Regions from separate parts of the Homo sapiens genome. Here region 2 is linked to region 1. A link means that fine-mapping ties the variant in region 1 to the expression of a gene that starts in the linked region. Tissue or cell type: sun-exposed skin. Region 1 holds a variant in brackets; the other region holds the start of a gene. All regions are shown on one strand. Distances are between the middles of the regions. Region 1 overlaps SHROOM2 (shroom family member 2). Region 2 holds the start of CLDN34 (claudin 34).

What was found. PIP is the estimated chance that this variant, and not a neighbour inherited with it, causes the effect.
Region 2: it holds the start of CLDN34, and the variant in region 1 is the best candidate, but not a certain one, in a credible set for the expression of CLDN34 in sun-exposed skin (GTEx, PIP 0.71).

Annotation. Positions count from the first base shown.
Region 1 is chrX:9,944,434-9,947,349 of GRCh38, reverse strand. SHROOM2 (shroom family member 2) reads right to left here. Exons shown (of 10, transcript NM_001649.4): 9 at 2,437-2,709; 10 at 1-679. The coding sequence ends at 413. Among named protein-coding and RNA genes, the nearest start is that of CLDN34, 21 kb to the left of the region's middle. The variant C/A (reference allele first, on the strand shown) is at 1,051.
Region 2 is chrX:9,966,080-9,968,995 of GRCh38, reverse strand. It overlaps CLDN34 (claudin 34), which reads right to left and starts at 1,638. Exons shown (of 1, transcript NM_001195081.2): 1 at 644-1,638. The coding sequence starts at 1,638. The coding sequence ends at 994.

The DNA.
Region 1 (2,916 bases):
AGCACCAGGGTCCCCCTCTCATGCACGTCATGACGCGCTGGCTGCTGTCCAAGCAGTTGGCTCAGCATCTGAAGACGGGAGGAACAACGGGTTTCCCACTGACAGTGACCACTCGGCAGGCACCACAGGCCCAGCCCACAGCCCATGCAGTGGAAACTCACATCCAGCAGAGCCTGGTGTCAGGTGTAGTTATGTGTAAAGGAAAATGGCTCTCAGCAATCAAAGGGGAAACTAAAAAATTAAATAAATCATCCCACACAAACACAAAAGTTATTGCTTTTATAACAGCCTCTTTGCTATGGGAGAAGTCTCTTTCCAGGCCATGAACACAGATGGGGTCTTCACGAGTATCCTTGGGAACGGAGCTGGAGCTCGGAGGCCCCGTGCCCCTCCTCCACCGGGGACTGGTCTCTTATTTGCCCCTTTCGGGCTGAAGGCTGTCCAATAAGCACTTCAGCTGCTCTTCACCAAGGTGGATTTTATCTTCCAGCTCCCGCTGCTCGATGATGAGGGCCGACTTCATCTTCACGAAGTGCTCATAGTCCGCGAGGCTCTCCTCGCTCAGATAGTTGGCCAAAATGTCAAAGACGATGCGCTCGCGGCGGTCCAGGTTCTCCTTGAGCTCCTTGGCGTCCTCGTGCTGCTGGATCAGGACTCTCTGCTTCTCAAGCAGTGATTGCTGTTGACAGACAAACAAGCCTGTTGAGGACCAGGATGAAAGCTGGGGCACTGGCCAACCCTTGAAGACACTGGCAACTTGTGGGCTGGTCCCACAACTTATCGATGGAAACCCTGATGCCACCAGAGATCCGATGGGGTCCACACAGACAAACCCAGGGCCCAGGGCCTGGGGGCATGTGTCTCATGGTTGCAGCGGGCCAGCCTGAGGCCCCCAGAAGCCGCCCACAGGCCTCTCTGGGTTTCCTCTTGCTGTCTGAGCCTGACTCTCTCCCACCTGCCTCGAATGGTGAGCAGAAGAGTCACCAAGGGACTCACAACGACAGAATTCTGAGATGCTGCAAAGGGCAAAGGACTGCGGGGCCCTCTTGG[C/A]GTCAAGGTCCGCTCCATGGGAACACCGTGGGACAGCTGGCCACATGGGTGGACTCGAGAGGAATTCAGGGTAGGCTTACTAAATGCTCCTGGCAGGAGGAGGAGAAGCCCCCGAGCCTGCAGAGCATATCTGCACACAAGGAAGCCTGAGGGTGGAGAAGACGCAGTGCTGTGCACGGGTGTCGGCCAGCAGCCCCCTCGGGCACGGTGCCACCCTGACCTAGCTAGTTCCACGACACAGTTACTAAGCACTCGGCTGAGTGCAGAAGGGCACCGTCTCCAAGCCCAGCGCCAGGACAGCGTTCTGCGTGGCCCAAATCACCCTCACCTGGAGAAAGGGGAAGGGTGCTTCTTCTGCTCCCCTTCTGAGAGAGGTTAAGATGTTTTATTCATGATACAGATGAACATTCTGAAGGCCTGTTCTGTGCAAACAAAACTAGCTGTTTTACTGATATTTGGCCTATGAGGTAAAAGCCAACGAGGCAGCTATTATTTCTCTTGGTTCATATGTGAAAGGACGAAAAGACAGACCCACTGAGAAACGCCTTGAAGTTAGATGCACTGTCTGCTTCCTTCTAGACTGATACATGCCCTCTTGTTAAATCACAGCTACAACCACCACAAGAAAATAGCTATCATTGAGTACTTACGATCGTCAGCAGGCAGGCATGTCTGTTACGGACTTATACATGGTAAAAGAAAAGTAAAAACAACAACAACATGATTTTTCTAAGAAGAGACAATTATCAGTAAGAGTCAATAGGAATATCTAAAAAGATGTTAAAAAGAGGTAACAGTTCTTTGAGAAGATCCCGCAACCCTGCAGTCCAATGACGGTTCAACTCCCTGCATCTGATAAGCACCTTTTCCCCTCAATTAAAAGGAAGGAGGCCAGGCACAGTTGCTCACACCTGTAATCCCAGCACTTTGGGAGGCTGAGGTAGGCGGATCACTTGAGCTCAGGAGTTCCAGACCAGCCTGGCCAACATAGTGAAATCCCATCTCTACCAAAAAAATACAAAAATTAGCCAGGCATGGTGGCATGCACCTGGGAGCTCAGCTACCCGGGAAGCTGAGGTGGGAGAATCTCTTGAACCTCGGGAGGCAGAGGCTGCAGTGAGCCGAGATCGCACCACTGCACTCCAGCCTGGGCAACAGAATGAGACCCTGTCTCAAACAAACAAACAAACAAACAAACAACTAAAGAAATATAAAAGGAAGGAGAGGGTATAGAGCGTGCACTGTCTCGACAAGGTCTGCAGGAGGAGGTGGACAGGCCATGTGGAAGCTATGCTAGGCTCCAAGGAGCTGACTTTCACGACACTTGAAAAACAGCCTTCCCACGAGACCACCCCCCATTTCCAAGTCAGACGTATCTGCATTTACCCGATCACCGGGAGAAGCGCCGTCGTCCAAATTATTGAGGGCATTCTCCACCCGGGCCAGGCGGCCTGACAGCGACAGCAGGAGGTTCACCACTTTGTCCAGGTCTCCAATGAACATCCGGAACTTGTCAAACTCGCTGGGCTTGCAGACGCCTTTCACGATGGCCTCCACCTCGGCCCCCAGCACGGTGTTGGCCTGCACGTCCTCCAGCAGGCTCTCGCGGGCCTCCCGGAGCACCTGCAGCTTGCGGCTGATGCTCTCGATGAGCTCCTGCTGTTGGGCACGGGATGGCAAGGGAACACGGAGACACTGGTTAGGCCGGCCCCCACCCCGGCCACACTGCTCACTGCCACCTTGGCGCACCTACGTGAAAGGTGCAGCTGACCTGCGTGAAAGCTCACTTTTGCATCACCAAATAATAGGGGATTTATACGACTAAGGGAAAGAAGAATGACTCCTAATGGCACTATTGGCATTTAA
Region 2 (2,916 bases), 22 kb before region 1:
AGGCAGGAGAATCGCTTGAACCTGGGAGGCAGAGGTTGCAGTGAGCTAAAATCACGCCACCGCACTCAAGTCCAGGCGACAGAGCAAGACTCTGTCTCAAAAAAAAAAAAAAACTTGGGAAAAAGAAACATAGATTAGAAAGGTAAAAGAATGGAAAGAGAAAGCAGAAGTGCCCTAATCTCAGTAACTGTGGAGTCTGGCAATGGGTGTGTGGAGATTCCTTATGCTATCCTCTCTACTTTTGCACATTTTAGAAAACTTTATATGGTAGGGAGATGTTATTACCATGACATAGAAAATAAGGTCCATTCTTGGTTTTTTGTTTATTGGAGTTTTTTTAAAGAGTCAGGGTCTTGTTATATGGCCCAGGCTGGAGTGCAGTGGTGCCATCACGTCTCACTGGAGCTTCCAACTCCTGGGCTCAAGTGATCCTCGCACTTCAGCCTCCCAAGTAACTAGAATCACAGCCACGCACCACCACACCCAGCTATTTTTTTTTTTTCTTGTAGAGACCAGGTCTTGCTATGCTGCCCAGGCTGGTCTTGAACTCCTGGCCTCAAGTGATCCTCCCACTTCGGCCTCCCAAAGTGCTGGGATTACAGGCGTAAGTCACCATGCCTGGCCTATGATTGTTTGTAGCAAAAGTTTAAGAGGGAAATGTGAGAAGTTAATGTACTCAGAAACTCTTATTTCCCTACTCTTAGTTTACAGGGTTGATTATTTGCTGTAGCCAACAATAATTAAAATTCAGATGCAATAAGACCAACTGGCAGGTGGGAAGACTTTTAAATAAAAGTTCTCAATTCAACCAACAAATCAGTGAGCCACATTCAGATACACAAGATAACAGAAGGAGGCAGTTGGCCACCTTCTGTCCCAAACTACCCATGCCACGGTCTTGAGTCGTTGGAAATATTTGGTAGAGCATGCTAATAACATTTTCCATAAACTCCCAGAAATCTTAGATTTGCAAAGCCAATGCAACCAGGAAATTCACATTTCTGAAATACCAGGATGCACTTGGCCGTACGGGGGACATTTGTAAAACAGAGAAAACATCCCAGTTAACAGCATCGGCAAGACACCTATCCCTGCCACTTGAATGGCAGTGCCAACTTCCTGCACATCTGGCTTGAAGGGCATTTGGAGAGATGGCAGGAAGGTGATCCCCTGTGAGTTTATGACGGCATCGTAGTTCTGGAGCACAGCAATTAAGTTAAAGACACCAGCAGCAATGTTGAGAATTCCTGAAACAACGAATGAATTGTAGGTGTCCTCCTCAAACATTCTCATGGACATGTTTCTAAGTGCAAACATGTTAAAGGCTCTCCCGAAGAATCCGAAAATGCTGGCAGTCAGTAGGAAGCGTTGAGCCATGGAAATTTCAAAAGGGAGAAAGGTGTCCTGGTAGCTGTATCGGTAACAAAATTTGGTTGTGGTGCTGTTGGTGCGACGCCGGTAAATGCAGACTCTAAATATTCCCACGCAGGCGATTCCAGGGGGGTAGAGCGAGGTGTCTTTCATGTACCATATTCGCCACTCCACGAGGCCCGTGGACGTAGAGGAGAGGATCCATCCTATGGTGGTAAGGGCGAAGACTGAAAATTGGCAGTCGGCACTGTTGCAGAACCAGACCATGGTGGCAGCGCACCCAGGAAACTACAAACAAATACAGAGCATGGTGAGCGGGGGGACCCTGGGACCTGGGACAGCCTCCCATGGGTGAGTAGCGCCAAGAGGGAGGTGTTGTATTGGAGAAAGGAGACACTAGACCCTCTAGATCTGCTGGTGGGAGTGCAGTCTGAGCAAACTTTGTGCAGGGCCGCTCCGCGATATTTCCCGAAAGCTTTAAAATGCACACACCTTCAGACTGGCAGTTCCACTTCTGGGCATTGGTGCAAAGACATGAATAAGGTCGGCCACAAATATGTAGCCACAAAGATGGTCCTCACAGCATTGCTTGTAATATTGGAAACCGGGGAACAACGTCAAGTCCAACAACAGGGCTTGGTGAAGGAATTTATGCTATGTCCACGCGATGGAGCTATACGCCAACATTGACAATACAAATGGAATCATACAAGGTATAAGAGTTTTGTGTGGCTCTTTTCACATGGCACGTTTCCAAGGGTCATCCATGTTGCAGCAGGTATGAGAAGGTTGTCCCTTTTCATTGCTGAATGGTGTTCCATTGTGTGGGTAGACCACAGTTTGTTCATTCATCAGCTTTTGGACATTTGGTTTGGTGCCATGTTTTGGCCATTATAAACTATGCTGTCATGAACACTTGAATATAAAAGTTTGTATGGGCATATGTCCTTGTTTATCTGGTGTAGATGCCTAGGAGTGAAATTGGTGGTTCATATGTTAAGTGCGCATTTAACTTTTTGTAAATTGCTCAACTGTTTTCCCACGTGGCTGCACCATTTTATATTCCCACCAGCAATGATGGAGGTTCCAGTTTCTTCATATTTTCTCCAACATTTGGTATTTTTAATGTTTTTCATGACAGCCATTCTAGTTGACATTCTGTGTGACCAAAAGGGAGGTGTCCGTAATATTTCAAATACAAATTACATGTTTCAAAATAATATGTACGATATAATCATAGATACAAATCGAACTGAAAATCTACATCCTAAGCTATTAGGAGACATTTTTAACTGGGTTTGAGAGATTCTGAGTTTTTTCTAAGCTATTTGGATTGTGAAGGGTCACACACATATAGAAAAGCACACAAGTGTGCAGCTCAATGAACGATGGTGGGGTGAACACCCATGGAGCCAGCATTTCATTTCAGATACACAATATTCCCACTTCCTTGCTTGCTTTCATAGTTTTGTCATCTCAGCATGCATCCCCACACATCTTACTTCTATTTTGCCTGTTTTTCAAAATGGGGATCATACGGTCAAT